2 separate regions of the Homo sapiens genome follow, and region 2 is linked to region 1. A link means that fine-mapping ties the variant in region 1 to the expression of a gene that starts in the linked region. Tissue or cell type: whole blood. Region 1 holds a variant in brackets; the other region holds the start of a gene. All regions are shown on one strand. Distances are from middle to middle.

Region 1 (8,114 bases):
CTCAAAACTTAATTGCTAAAGCAATTTTACTTAACTCAGAGTAAAATAACGTGACTTCAGAATTCTTATAAAATCTTAGATTCCTTTTAAATTCCCACGATATTTATGCCCATATAACCACATTAATCATAGTATAATCATGCGTCGTTTAACAGTGGGATGCATTCTGAGAAATGTGGCGTTAGGCAATTTTGTCATTGTGCAGACATCATAGCCTCTACTTACACAGACCTAGGTGGTACAGCCTACTGTACACTTAGGCTGTATGGTATAGCCTGTTGCTTCTAGACTACAAACCTGTACAGCATATTATTGTCCTGAATACCATAGGCAATTGGAACACAATGGCAAGTATTTGTGCATTTAAACATACCTAAATATAGAAATGATACCATAAAAATATGGTATAAAAGATGACAAATGATACATCTGTACAGGAGACTTATCATGAATGGAACTTACAGGACTGGAAGTTGTTCTGGGTGGGTCAGTGAATGAGCAGTGAGTGAATGTGAAGGCTTAGGACAGTAGTGTACACTACTGTAGACATTATAAACCCTGTACACTTAGGCTAAACTCAATTTATTTAAACATTTTCTTTCTCCACTAATACATTAGCCTTAGCTTACTGTAACTTTTTTACTTTATAAACTTTTTAATTTTAAAACTTTTGACTTTATAATAGCACACCTTAAAGCAAGCACATTGTACAGATGTACAAAATATTTCTTTATGTATTTATTCTATAAGCTCTTTTCTGTTTAGTTTTTTTTTTCTTTTTTACTTCTAAAACTTTTTGTTAAAAATGAAGATACAAACACACACATTAGCCTAGGCCTACCCAGGGCCAGGATCATCAATATCACTGTCTTCCACCTCCACATTTTGTCCTGCTGGAAGGCCTTCAGGGGTAGTAACGCACATGGAGCTGTCATCTCCTGTGATAACAATGCCTTCTTCTTGATACCTCCAGAAGGACCTGCCTGAGGCTGTTTTATGGGTAACTTCTTTTTTTATAAGTAGGAGGAATATATTCTAAATACCAATAAGAAATATAGTATAGTAAATACATAAGCCAGCAACATAGTCATTTATTGTCATTATCACGTATTATGTAGTACATAATTGTGTGTGCTAGACTTTATATGAGTGGCAGCTGACTAGGTTTGTTTACACTAGCATCATCACAGACACGTGAGTAACATGTTGTGCTGTGCTGTTACTAGGCTGCAGTGACACAGAGTGTTAGGAATTTTCCAGCTCCATTATAATCTTTTTTTATTTAAATGTTTAGGAAAAGATAGCTTGTAAAGCATTACAGTCTTATAGGACCACTGTAGTCTATGGTGTAAACCAAAAATAAAGTTCTAAGCTCCTCAGTCTACTGAATGGACTCCTCTTAGGATTCGTGAAAAACTAGTTCAGGCCATGACGGGAAGGGGGAGTCAGACATGCCTCATTATATTCTCTTCTTTTTGGAATTCAGGCACAACTGACCGGCATTAACATTAAGATACAGATCTTAAGACTGACAAAACAGACTCTTTGTAGTGTGAAAGGAAATAAGATACCAGATTCCAAACTGACTCTAATATAGCATCACATGACAGATAGCAAGCCCTGAAAGAAGTCAAAGTATTTTGCCCTAATATATATTTCTTTGGCATATTTTGAAATAGCTGTGCAAAGCTGTCTCTTTTGGGGAAAATTTACATTCTGTAGAGAATCCCCTTCCCTTTCCAGGTCTTTTTCTGATCCTGAAGAGAGTAGCTTAAAGGTCTGAATAGGAAACGTTTGCCGTATATTACCTCTAAGGGTGCCACCTATAAGACTTCTTCTACATAGTAAGAACCTTGGTCTTCACAACTCCTTATCGTAACCCAGGTACTCCTTTCTGCTGATTCTTTCTGCTGATAACTTAACTCTTTCAACCAGTTGCCAGTCAGAACATCTTTGAATCTACCTATGACCTGTAAACCATCCCTCTTTCCTCTCATCTCCTCTTTGAGTTGTCCCACCTTTCTGGACCAAACCAATATATACCTCACATGTATTGATTGATGTCTTATGTCACCCTAAAACATAAAATCAAGCTGTAACCCAACCACCTTGGGCACATGTTCTGAGGACCCCTTGAGGCTTTGTCATGGGTCATGGTCCTTACATTTGGCTCAGAATAAATCTCTTCGAGTATTTTACAATTTGGCTTTTTAGTCAACAGTGGGTATATGTGGTCTCTTGTTGACCAAAATGTTGTTATGTAGTGCATGACTGTAGTTACTTTTTCTTTAATAGCCTCCAATTTATTTAAGCATTTTAATTTAAAACTTGTTAATTAAGGGTACTTATGTTGAAGCAGTGATCAAATTATTGTGCCATGTCTCTGTTAAATATTTAGGAGCATTATGCCATGTGTTTTAAATATTTATTCCTTTAAGTGTGCTAGTGAGAGAGCAAACAACTTGCTGATCAAACATAAATTTCTACTGTTCACCTTTATGTGTTTTTCTTTCTTTGCTAGAAATAGAAAATGATGAGGTTTTGCTGTAAGGCACTATAGTAAGAGACATTATATAAATATTTATAAAATGGATGATTACAAAAAAAGGAGATTAAAACAAAACAGGAGCTTAGTGGCCATTTTGTGTTAAGATAAATATCAAATTTTTGAAATTAAACTCTTGAGGCAGAGGTGGGTTGATGATTCTCCTTGTCAGGTAGCAGAATCTATTGGTATTTCTATTCCTGTTTTTGATTTGAGATTAAACTAATGGACTGTATTCCTTAGTTGCTGATACCTTTCGTGTTCATGTGCTGATAAAAACCCAGACCTCTGTCCATCTAACCATTGTGTCTCTGAGAACATTTCACAGTTCTTTGTTACTTCCCACATCAAGTCCTAACTATCTAGCTAAGCATTCCAGACCCTGATCATTTGGTGAAACCCACCTTTCTAATCTTAGTTTTAATTTCTTCCCTCTCTAGTAATTTTTATCTGCTCACTACCTTCTAAATATTGCCATGGGCTTGCCTGTTTCTAAGCTTTTGATGACTTCTTTTCTCTCTAGAATACACTTCTGTGAATCTCCATTCTTTCTGCAAGGTACTTCCCCTGGATTGTAGCCCTGAGGTGTTTCCTTCCTGTAAACTCCTATATTACTACTATTTCACTTGTAGTGTGGCCCCTCATAGTGTCAGTACCAGCCTCACATTCCTATTTAACGTCTTGGAGGATAGTTGCCATGTCTCCTGGTATACTTCTCTCCTCTTCCCCACCCTTTCTCTTTTCTCTGCTGCCGTTTGGTATCCAGTAAGTATATATTGGCTGATAATATTGTTTTGAAACATAACCATGGAACTGGTGATTTTCTGTTACTACCTTTCAGGAGGCCTCTGGGAGCTGGTTCTCTGTTCTCCTGTGTATTATTCTACCTTCACTTGTCCATTGGATGTATAATTAGAAATTTTATACTGAGAGCTACTGTAGACTGAATTCTTCCCCACCTCCTAATTCATATGTTGAGGTCCTAACCCTCAATGTGATGGTATTTAGAATTGGGGACTTGGGGGGTAATTAAATTTAGATGAGGGCCAGGCATGGTGTAAACTCAGGAGGCTACGACAGGAGGGTCACTTGAGCCCAGGAGTTCTAGGCTGCAGTGAGTTATAATTGCACCACTGCACTCTCTAGCCTGGTTGACAGAGCAAGACTGTGTCTCTTAAAAACAAAAACAAGTTAAAAACAATTTAGATGAGGTCATGAGGGTGGAGTCCTCAAGATGAGATTAGTGCCAACATAAGAAGAGACAGGAGAGACCTTCCCTTCCTCCCCCTTCCTGCCGGCCATATAAGGACACAGCGGGAAGGCTGTCTGCAAACCAGGAAGAGAACCCTCACCAGAATGTGACCATACTGGCAGATTGAGGACCTCCAGTCTCCAAAACTAGGAGAATTTCTGTTGTTTAAGCCACTCTATGATATTTTGTTATGGCAGTTCAAGCTGACTAATATAAGATCAGAGTCTTAAATCTTACTTTTGGAAAGTAACCCTTATGTTCAGCAGTATTTAAGTTTTTAATATATACTCATACATTTTCTAGTTGCTATGGGTAATGTATAAAGTCATCAAAGTTTAGAAGCTAAAGAGACTTTAAAAGATCATTCCAGATGCAAACGGTATCAGGGAAGGAAGTGTGTAAATTGGGCTTGAGCTGTTCTGGTTATGTATTCCATGCCCACTACTCTTCCACCCTTATCTCCTTGTACATTCAAGACCTCCCTTATGTAGCGAAACATTCTTATTAGGGCACTTCCCTAACCTGAGTTTCAAAACATGTTTTTGTGACTGGTTCCTCATCTGTGAGTGATGATGGTTTCATTTTTCTCCCTGGACTTTGGGACTCGACCATCTTTTGGACTGTATTGCTGACCTTTTGTTGCTTTCTTTGGCTGCGAAGAATTTATTTCTAATATAAATCAGCTCCTCTTTTCTCTTTGCTTTGGATTGATGTATGAGTGTCTGGAGGATCACCCATCTCTTTTTTCATGTTTCAGCAAAAGAAATGATCATTTTCCTTCTCTCCTCTCTCTTTGACAGTATCATCGTGAAGATTCAGTGTTCCTTTAAGCTGCTTAAATTTCATTTTTAGTATTCACAAACACCTTTTTTTTTTTTTTTTTTTTTTGAGAGGGAGTCTCACTCTGTCAGCAGGCTGGAGTGCAGTGGCGCAATCTCAGCTCACTGCAACCTC[C/T]GCCGCCCAGGTTCAAGTGATTCTCCTGTTTCAGCCTTCCCAAGTAGCTGGGACTACAGGCATGTGCCACTATGCCCAGCTAGTTTTCATATTTTTAGTAGAGACAGGGTTTCATCATGTTGGCTAGGATGGTCTCGATCTCTTGACCTCATGATCCGCCCACCTCGGCCTGCCAAAGTGCTGGGATTACAGGTGTGAGCCACCACGCCTGGCCCACTTTTTTTTTTTATCCTTTACATGGCTTAACCATCTCCTTCTTTGTGTTACCTCCACTTTGCTTTTTTTTTTTTTCTCCACTTCTTGAACGTACGGTACTTTTGTCACAATTATATGCCTCAATGTCATTTTCCACATAGAATGCTAATTTCCTGAGGACAGTTTGTGTAATTTATCTCTGCATCATCAGTGCTCAACATAAAAGCTGGTGAACTGATAGAAATAAGAAATTGATAGAAGTTCGCTGAACTAATCCATAGTTCCAAATCTGCAGTTTCACATATTTAGACTATTTTCCAGATAATCAAGGTTTTTTTCATACCTTCCTCTCCCATATCAGGATTATTGTGTGTACATTATAGGAAATTGTATGGCCATGACCATCTCTTTGACAGTTAATACAGATGCCATACATTCATTATTCACCTAAACAGCCTAACTCTTTTGGGCTTATTCATAATGTGGCCAGTGTGATGTTGGGTGACTGTTCATTGAAAGAATCTTTGGAGCAGATCTATAAACTTAAGCTATGTATCCTTGAACAAAGAACCCTGCTCTACTCTTGGTCTAATGGTACTCACTTATCGACCTGAAGCAAATACCATCTGTAGTATGCTGTTCTAGATGTGGCATCATTAATTGGCAAGCAGGGCATGTATCTTTTTGATATGATCAAAGTGGTTCATTGTTGGCTCAAGTGTGCCAGTGCCTGTAATACTTGTTTAAGACTGATTGACAGGTCTCAGATTCTTGTGTGTTTAAAGAACTTGTTTTCTATATTTGAACCCCGTATTTTGAGTGATAAGAGATGTGTCAAAGGAATTGAAAATTACTTAAATGGAAATCATTCTAACTTCTGATAAATGATGCCAAGGCAAGTCATATTTCCAGTTGTCTGCATTAAAAAATAATCTCAAGTTTGTGGGTTAAGTATTTATAGATAACTTGATAATTTTGATGGCTTCTACGCACCAAAGTGGCTAAGAAAACATGGTCAGAATTAAGGATGCTTCTCTCTTTTAGAGTAAAGTGTCATACTTACTGAATGTTTTAACATCTGACCCTTCAGTGGTAACTACATTTAGGCAAATATCCCTTAAATAGCTAAAACTGAAAATATTCCTTCACTGAATGAAATTACCCTGGTATTTCACATATTTCAAAGTCAGGGTTGAAGTAATTTTAACTTTGTGGAACATGACTCTGAATTGGGTAGTAGACTGGGGCTTAGTTGTCTGAAGCCTTTGGATTTCATTCTTCAGTACAGGGTACTCTCAGTTCTGGTGGTTCTTTCTTTGGGGTTCAAGGCCATTATTGCAAAGTAAGAGCTTTAAAAGGATTATGAATAAGGTGTAGACCTAGGGGAGGAATCTCCACCTTTGCAGTTGGGAGACAGGGAACCTGTAGAAAGTGAAATTTGAGGTGAATCTGGAAAGGTGAATGTGTATTTTCCAGGTTGTTAGAGTGGAGTTAAGACAGTGATACTTTTTTTTTTTTTTTTTTTTTTTGAGAAGGAGTCTCGCTCTGTCGCCCAGGCTGGAGTGCAGTGGCGCAATCTCAGCTCACTGCAAGCTCCGCCTCCCAGGTTGATGCCGTTCTCCTGCCTCAGCCTCCCAAGTAGCTGGGACTACAGGTGCCAGCCACCATGCCCAGCTAATTTTTTGTATTTTTAGTAGAGATGGGGTTTCACTGTGTTAGCCAGGATGGTCTTGATCTCCTGATCTTGTGATCCGCCCACCTCGGCTTCCCAAAGTGCTGGGATTACAGGCGTGAGCCACCGCACCCGGCCACATTCTTCTTATGAAACAGGGAATCACCAAAGGGTGAGGAACATTTACCATGGACTTCTTGTCTTCATGTATATTGTGTTAATTATCTAGTAGTATCTTGGGAGTAGGGGAGTGGAGAGGAAAGAATGGATGGTGAGATGCAATAGGAGCAAATTATTTGGCAGGTTTAGCCAAAGGACCAAAGGAAAAAGAATGGAGTGTTTTCAAGGGAGTGTCTTTGTGGTGACTGACTTTGGAGTTCAGAGTATTTAGGGAACTAAATGAACCAGAAGGATGATGGTAAATCGGATGTCATGGACCAGATATGTGGATAAAGTATGAGTGTCTGTGCATATGGTTTAACAATAAATAATTTTAAGCTTGAGTTTGTTTTGTTAATAATAGACTTCTTAGTCTCTGGGAACCATGACAGGGTATACTTCAAAATGGTAGTGTATACTTCTTTCTTAAACAAGCTCTGTTTTTCTGTTTGTGTAGCTTTGTTTTATTCACCTGCTCTAGAACTTATTTATTTGGCTATAATTTCTAATGTTTTTCATTTAATAGGATCATGATATATTAGGATAGTTGAATACTTAATGGATATTTTTCATCTAGCCACTCAAGACATGAAGTTCTTGTTACCCACACAAGAGGTTGGTTTGATTGTTGGGCTAGGTATCAACCCAATGACCACAACCAAGGAGATTTAGTAAGATTTAGTATTTAGTAAAGGGATTTTATTGCTTGTAACAAGTAGGGAGAACACCAGGGATAGTTCTCAAAGCAGTGTCTCCCGGAGCTGGGGACTGGGTCAGGTTTTATAAGCATATGATAATGAGGTGTGATCTGACTGGATCTTGCAATGAGGTGATGCCGGGAGGTCTGATCTTACTGGATCCTGACTTGGGGTGATGCTAGAGCTCCATCTGATTGGATCCTGGATCCTGTTAGGTGGTGTTCGCTTCTTAATTCATCCTGCTCTTAGATTCCCCCTGTGGTTGCATGCTTGGTTCATCTGGGCATGCTCAGGTTACATGAGCTGAGGGTCCATGGCAACTGAAAACGCACAACTTTGTCACCCAGAAGTTGAACCATGTTGTTCTGGTGCGGCTATACTTCCACAACATTCTTGTCATTTGGTTGCCCAGTCTTTATTTTATACTTCTATTAAGATGAATTTCATTATTTCCATGGGCAGCTATTAAATGTTAACACTTTAGCTTTTTTTAAGTTTAATTTATAGCAAGGAAAAAATCATATTAAAACTAATTAAAATGGAATAATGCATACCACTAAATATACCTTTAGAATGGCTAAAATTACAAAGACTAATCATACCAAGTATTGGTTAGGATGTGGAGGAACTAGAACTCTC
Region 2 (8,114 bases), 54 kb before region 1:
ACAAAAGATGGGTAAAGAGCAAGAGTAGAAAGGACAGAACAAAGTTGAAAATGGCCAGTAAATTTATGAAAAACATCCCCTCATCAGAAATCAAAGACATACAGTTAAAACAAAAATTAAAATATTAATACTATTTTCCCCAAGCTAAATTAATGAAATGTGTAAAAAATGATAATATCTAATGTTTGATGGTAGGAGGGTTTAGAGCTCTCATATATAGCTCACTGTAGAATAAATTGTGAGAGACTGAATATATAAAGGGGCACTGGCCAGACCAGATATTAAAATAGAACTCTGACCCACAGTCTGAAGCAAGCTGCAGCAATTGCCCAGGAAACCAAGCCATTGTCCACAATAGAAAACCCAGGAATCTAGCCTGACAGTCAAAACTGCCATCTCTAGTAACAATCCAGGAACCTTAACTATAACCTCTGAAACAATCAGCCTAAAATGACCAGGACTTTATTGGTAGTTGACAACTTCCTTAATTTTTACTCCCACTTCCAACTAAGAGCAACCAGAGAAAACCAAATATCCACCCCTACCAATCACATAGGTTGCCCCACTTCTGGTTACCCCACCTGCAGCTTTCTCATGCCAGCAGCCTCCAACCAGGGCCTACCTGAAGCCTTCCCTTTTCCTACCTTCCCACTCTTGTGCCTGTGTTTGAGTCTCTGCCACAGCGCAAGTGCTGGTGGCTGACTCCCTTTCTAGAGTAAGCTCTGAATAACTCCTCAATGGCATTTCTCATTTGGATGATCTTTATTCCTGCAGTTGATACCACCTTGCATTATAGCATTTTCCAGAATTATGCACAGGGATGTTAATTAGATGTACTTAAAGTATACAACAAAATAGAATGATTATATACATTACTTTTCATACGATGGAATTATAATGTGAAATCATGTTTTATTAAAATCATGTTTTAGAAGAATATTTTACAAGATTGTTATTGGGAAACAATCTTGAAATATGACTAAGTAAAAAAAAATGACAAAACTTGGTAATATGATCTTTGTTGGACAAGTTTTTAAATAAATACAGAGAGACAGAGAGGGGAAAGGAGGAAGAGAGAGAAAAAAGAGAAGAAAAAAGAAAGGCATATATCCAACAATCATAATCTAAGTGGAGAAATCATGAGTGGTTTTAGAATTTTATTTTATAATTTATTGTATTTTTCCAGTTATCTATTATGAACACATAGTACTTTTGTAATTAGAAAAATGTTATTAAGAAAATCTAATGTGGTTGCTCAGGGAAATTTCCAATAAGCTATATCTTAAAATGACATTTAGAATATTAGAAGGTAACAGGTTTCAGTAGGTACAGTTTTGGAAAAACTAAACTGCAAAATAAGCTGAGGCTGGCCAAATTTGCTAAAGATAACATCAATATTCTTTTAGCTATTTGGTACAGTTAATTAAATAAAGGCTAAGATTGTAGCTTGGAATTAGTAGTGTAATGTGGTGTAAATTTGCTTGTCATTAGCTGTCACACCTGTAGATTGAGAAAGGTAGCAATCTAAGAAGGAATGGAAGCTGAAGATTGGGAAAAGAATCTACAACACATCCCCTAATTAGCAAGGGCATAAGAGTGAATTATTTTAACTTTGTCCACTTTGCCGATTTTTCAAGTTTCCTGAATTTATAAATGCTATTTAATAATGGAAAATATTAAAGCCGTTCATATTGTTTAAGCAATGAAATAATGCTATTGTCACGAATAAAATGGCTATAATTTGAGTTAGTAAACTGTTTCAGACCTACGAAACAAACATATGAGACAGATCCTTGAAACCAGTGAGCCACTCTACAAATATAAGGTCTTAGGTCTGTTTTCTGAAGTCTATTAACAATTTTAGGTCCTATAGACTGAGAATGAGAAGTTGAATCTTACCTTTACCTCCATCTGCATTTTTGTTTTAGTTTTAGTTTTTGTTTTTGTTTTTGTTTTTTGAGACAGAGTCTTGCTCTGTCACCAGGCTGTAGTGTAGTAGTGTGATCTTGGCTCACTGCAACCTCCGCCTCCCGAGTTCAAGCGATTCTCCTGCCTCAGCCTCCCGAGTAGCTGGGATTACAGGCGCACACCACCACGCCTGGCTAATTTTTGTATTTTTAGTAGAGACGGGGTTTCACTATGTTGACCAGGATGGTCTCGATCTCTTGACCTCAGGGGATCCGCCCGCCTTGGCCTCCCAAAGTGCTGGGATTACAGGCGTGAGTCACTGCGCCCAGCCCTTTACCTCCGTATCTTGAAGTTGGGAGAGGGTGGACTGAGCAGGTGATTTGACACAGAATCAGTGACTGTTAGGCTGACTACTCCTCAAACTTGAAAGTATATGCATATGACTGAGGGATACTATTAAAATCCAGATTGTGGTTAAATACATCTCTCAAAGGGCCCCAAATTCTTCATTTTTAACAAGCTCCCAGGTAGTCTTTGGACTACACTTAGAGTAGTTGGAGAATACAAGACCACCTAGATAAGAGAGCCTCAAACTCTCACTTCACATGAGCAAATGGGATTTGGAGGTCACATGTGAATTTCATCCTGTCCACTGTCCCAGCACGAACCTGCTAGTTCATAGTAGGTTTCTTCCTCTAATTCACCTTTCCATACCTGTGTCTCTTCACTTTTCCAGTCTCTCCAAAAGGAAAGAGGCTCATAATACTTTATTGTAATCAAGAGAGTATACTGAATGCGGAACAAACTTGGGGAATTGAGAGTTTCTACGGTTAAATGAGCAGAGGAAAACCTATAAAGTCTGGCTATATCTTTAATAAGACCCATAACACCCTTCTTGAGAAAGAGAATAAACATTCTCATTCCAGAAAAGTAGAAAGGCCAGGAAGGCCCAGAGTGGATGGCCTTCAGCTTTGCTTGCTTGGGCTGCTTGACTTCTCACCAAAATAAAATGGAACCATAAAACAAAAATGACCTTGTGGTTAAGACAGTGGTAATAATCCCTTATTTTCCTTCTTCATCCCAATCTCATCCATTCAGCATAGAAGAGGAGATTGCCCAGTTGGAGAGGCTGTAGTCCTAGAGGTTTATGGGTGGCTGTCACTCATAACAGAAAAGAGAAAATTGGAGTTTGTGAGGAAAGTCAGAAAAGTGGAAGAGCTCATTTTATTTCTCTTTCCCGTGGATACTCGACTGAGGGCTTCCACAGTCTCTTTGGTCTGTATTAAAGTTTTTCTGGGATCTGGAGTTCATCATGAGCAATGTTTGGCCCTGGGCTGCTTTGCAAGAGATTTTAGAAACTCTTGGGTTAGGTTTATACTTGCCCTAGGTTTATACTTAGGGCATTGGGTGCTTGCTTATGGATTTCTTTTTTCTTTTTTCTTTTTTTTCAGATAGGGTCTCACTCTGTTGCCCAGGCTGGAGTGCAGTGGCACCATCAATGCTCACTGCAGCCTTAACCCCCACCTCAGCCTCCTGAGTAGCTGGAACTACAGGCGCACACCATTATGCCCGGCTAATTTTTGGTATTTTTTGTAGAGACAGGGTTTTGCCATGTTGTCCAGGATGGTCTCAAACTCTTGAGCTCATGAAATCTGACTGCCTTGGCCTCCCAAAGTGCTGGGATTACAGGTGAAAGCCACTGCACCTGGCTGCTTATAGACATTTAAATGCCTCAGGGTGGTCTATCCTGTCGGCTGAGTGATTAGCCCACTGGAAGAGGAACCCCAGCAAGGCTTGGAGGAAGAAGATGGAGGTAAGGCTGTTTAGGCCCTGGGGAGAAGACAGGTGTCTCAGAGATGATGTCACCTTGGCTTCTGGGCCATTGAGGAATCATGGGTTGAGCAAGCTACAGACAGAGTACTGAGTCCATGACTTCCTACTGGGTCAGAGTCAATGAGGCACAGGGAGTCAAAAAAGGTACTGAGGCAATCACCACATGCTGCCATTTGCAATGCCCTCTGCTGGTCACCAGCTACTCCAGTGAATGGAAATTGTAAAATGTCTGTCTTTGGACAAGGTGCTGCAGATTCCTGAGGGTTAAGAAACAGAATTCATAATGTTCAGAAACATGGAGAAGGAATCAGTCATTCTGAAGGCTGGAAGTAATACAGTGGTTGTGCAGATTTTGACCAAGGACAACTTCATATTGTGTCTTCACTTGAACATTTACCTATTGAATATCCTCAACAAAAGTTTAACAATTAATTTATTAAACAACAGAGATTTTTTTTAAATCAATGTTCATATGACAGGAGAAGACAAAGTAGCAAGCAAAAATAATGATATTATTTGTTGGCGTATAAATTTTCTCTGACTCTCCACTGCAAAGACTGCTTTATATTCACTGAATATACTTAAAAAAGAGAGAGAAAAAAGGACAAGAACACTTTTAGAGTAAGCAGCATTTGGCAATCACAGAGACTTTGGCATCAGGCAGGGCTGAATTCTATTACTAGTTCTGCCTCTTACTAGCTGCATGACCTCTGAGCTACGGTATTCTCCCCTATAAATGGGGATGATAGTAGGAATTGCTGTGAGGATTAAATGAGATAATTTATGCAAAGCTATAAACCCAGGGCATGACATAGTAAGTGCTTAATAAACACTAGAATAACTAGAGAAACAAGAACAACAATAAAATAAGCTATAGTATTAGCAATGGTTATGTTCACATCCTTCAAAGCAGAATTCCATTGAGTTTGGAGAATTGGCAGCAGAAATGAACCCTAGCAGGTCCGTCCCCTAGAAGAGATTTCCAGGCTCAGATGAAGCTAAAACTACATTTCCCAGAAGGCCCTGGGCCAAGTGTGTGGTTTCCTCTTATTTCCGGGTCTGTCAGGTGACTCTCCCGTGGCGCCATGGCGGAAGCAGAGGAGCAGGTAAAGGGTGCAGGTGGTAGTTGAGGGCACAGGGATATAGAGACTAGGGTGGGCTGTTTGGGGAGGGTGGAGTGGAGTGGGTGGAGGTGCGGAGCTGCTGGAATAGCGCAAGGCAGGTCCGCGGCAGGGCGGGGTGGGATGGCGAAAGTTGGTTTCGGGGAGCAGAGAGGATGCCAGCCCCGGGAGGGCACCTAGGGAAAGCGCTCTGACACACCCCCGCGTTCGGGCTGCCTTTCCTCGGGCCCCATCCCTGTGGCCTTTGCCCAGGGAAATTTTGGCATGAAGGCAGGCCCGGCTACCTCAGGGACTGACTGCCTGTGGGAGGAGGAAGAGAGGCCGGGTGACTGAAATTTAAGTTGCTTTCCACTTGAAGTAGGACAATAAGAACTAGGAGAGAGTAGACGATGAGTTTTGTTTTGTATCTATTGGAGTTAGGTACAGAGCTGGAGCACTGTTGCGGTGCAGCAGGGATTAAATGCATCCGTTCTGGAGCAAAAATGCCTGGGGTCCAAGTGCTGGTTCCTTTTCTTACCCAATGTGCTACTTTGAGCTACTTATTTAACTTTCCAGTGTGAGATGGGGGTAATAATAAGGCCGTCCTCAGAGGGTGGTTTAAGATGGAGAGAGGAGTTTATACACAAAGTTAGAGTACTTAGAACTGTTGGGCTTAGTAAAAATTAAATGGGATTATTTGTTGCTGGTAGTATCCAGTCAACAACTGGCAACGTGGCACTGAAGTTTAGGGTAGAAATTGGTGATGGGAATATGAATTATTTTCATATAGCAGTAGTGGTAATCACACATTTTATGAAATGACGAAGTAAAATAAAAAAGACAAAAAAGAGAAGCAGACCAAAAAAGAGGCTAGAACTTGGGGGAGATAACTTAAGTTTCCATTTCCAGTGTTATTTCAGTTGGATACTGTTTTTCTTCACAAGTTAACAGGGCTGTCAGTTGCAGTCATTGTCTCTAAACAGTGACTTGATGATGGGCTGTTTAGTATCATAAGAGTCATTTACCTAGTTCAATAATTTTTACTATTTTCAACATACTTCATTTGTTTTTACTTCATAGTGAAAATTTGTTCTGTATATATTTTATATATGCCAATAATTGAGACGTTTGACTAGGTAGAAATTTGGTTTGGCTGGTCCTTGTGATAACAAGATAACAAAGTCTCTTATCTAACACTAGAGACTCCTATTTCCATTCTAGCAGTTCAAAGGAAAACACTCATTAAGAACATATCATTTCATGACTGCCATTGCTCCTTTGAATAAGGGTGAGATTGTTTTTCACATTGTGCATCTTTATTTCATGTTGAAATGTTTGTTTTATGGTTTGATTTGAAAGCAAAAAACTGAGTTTCATATGTTCTTAGATATAGTGGAATAGAAATGGAGAGAGTTGCTCCTAGAAAAACCATTGTTTTTTCTTCCATTGAAAAAAACCTATGAAATATTTACCACTGTTTAGTGCAGAAGAAGAATTTAACAAAGTTGTCTGATATAAAAATGACACATACAAAATTAGGGATATAATAATGTTTCACATTTGTACATTATTTTCTAGTTTTAAAAACCCTTCCATATTGCATTTGGTCTTCCCAAAAGAATTCTATGAGGTAAATGTTTACTCTCATACATGGGTGAAACACCTCTGATATTCTAGACTTTCCAGGGGCTTCTAATCTTATTCAGAGGAAAAGCCACAGCCATTACGGTAGCCTGGTTGTCCCACAGGACCTTGACCCAGCTGCCCTTAGCCACCTTTTCTTGACCTCATTTTTCCCACTACTCTCCTTCCCTTCTGTGACTCTGCATCAGCTGTACTGGCTCTCTTAGTCTTCAAAAAGCCAGGCAGGTTCCTATCTCAGGGCCTCTTTGCTCATGCTGTTCCTTTTTGAGGAACCCTGATATTTACAGGCTTCCTCATTTCCTTCATGTCTTTGTCCAAGTGTTCTTTTTCATTGCGACCTTCCCTGACCATGCTTTGAAACCTTCCTGCATTATTTTTCCCTATAATGTGCATCACCGTTTGACATACTGTATTATAAAATTTGTTTTTTTTTTTTTCCCTGTATATTTCTGTGTACCTCTTACCACAGAGCTTGGAACATCCTGACAAGGATTTGTTCACTGCTGTATGTCCAATACCTAGAATATTGCTTGTTACTTAATAAATTTGTGTTAAATGATTGACTTTTACTGATAAACAAATTGAAATTCAGGCAACTTGAGTAACGTGCTCAGGCTTATATCTATAATATAATAAATCTCCAGTCCTCTGTCTCCATAGCTCATGACTTTTCACTAGAATACCCTACCTTTTTAAAATATATGTAAGAACCTAAATCTAAATAGTTTTTTTACTTTATGAAGTAGAATTAGCCCTTTCCATTTTAATGATTTTCCCTCAAGCCACCATTCCACTTTGATGCTTTAACAGCCAATATGTAGTTGGAGTGGGCATTCTCCTCTCCAGTGGTGTCAGTATCTTAAAAAGACTAGTCGTGGACCAGGCACAATGGCCCATACCTGTAATCCCAGCACTTTGGGAGGCCAAGGTGGGGCGATTGTTTGAGCCCAGGAGTTCGAGACGAGCCTGGGCAACATAGCAAAACCCTATCTCTACAAAAATTACAAAAATTAGCCAGGCATGGTGGTGTGTAGTCCCAGCTACTCGGGAGGCTGAGGTGGGAGGATTGCTTGAGTCAAGAGGGTCGGGGCAGCAGTGAGCCATGATCGTGCCACTGCACTTCAGTCTGGGCAACAGAGCAAGACCCTGTTTAAAAAAAAAACGAAAAACAAACAAAAAAAAACCCAGCAGTCTGTTGTAAATGGCTGAAAGACACATTCACAAATTGTTCAGTTCTTTTTTTTAAAAGAAAGTAAGTAATTGTACCTAATCTTATCCTTTATAGATTAAAAATGGTTAGGCTTTTCTCTGATTTGTTTTTGCATTTCACAGTAGGAAGCCATTGAAATCTGATGACGGTAGTAGGGCTTTATTATACCATTTTTTTAAAGCTAAAAGTGTATAAAAATGGAGAAAATAGGGCTGCGTGCGGTGGCTCATGCCTGTAATCCCAGCACTTCGGGAGGCTGAGGCGGGTGGATCACCTGAGGTCAGGAGTTCGAGACCAGACGGGCCAACATGGTGAAACCCCGTCACTACTAAAAATACAAAAAAATTAGTCAGGCATGGTGGTGGGCGCCTGTAATCCCAGCTACTCGGGAGGCTGAGGCAGGAGAATCACTTGAACCC

The links. PIP is the estimated chance that this variant, and not a neighbour inherited with it, causes the effect.
Region 2: VPS41 starts here. The variant in region 1 is fine-mapped to the expression of VPS41 in whole blood (TOPMed, PIP above 0.99). The same link has a PIP of 0.9 or more in neutrophils.

What each region holds. Positions count from the first base shown.
Region 1 is chr7:38,851,780-38,859,893 of GRCh38, reverse strand. All of the region lies in intron 4 of VPS41 (VPS41 subunit of HOPS complex), which reads left to right. Among named protein-coding and RNA genes, the nearest start is that of VPS41, 53 kb to the left of the region's middle. The variant C/T (reference allele first, on the strand shown) is at 4,752.
Region 2 is chr7:38,905,887-38,914,000 of GRCh38, reverse strand. VPS41 (VPS41 subunit of HOPS complex) reads left to right here and starts at 4,810. Exons shown (of 29, transcript NM_014396.4): 1 at 4,810-4,847. The coding sequence starts at 4,827. RefSeq lists an enhancer at 4,703-4,802.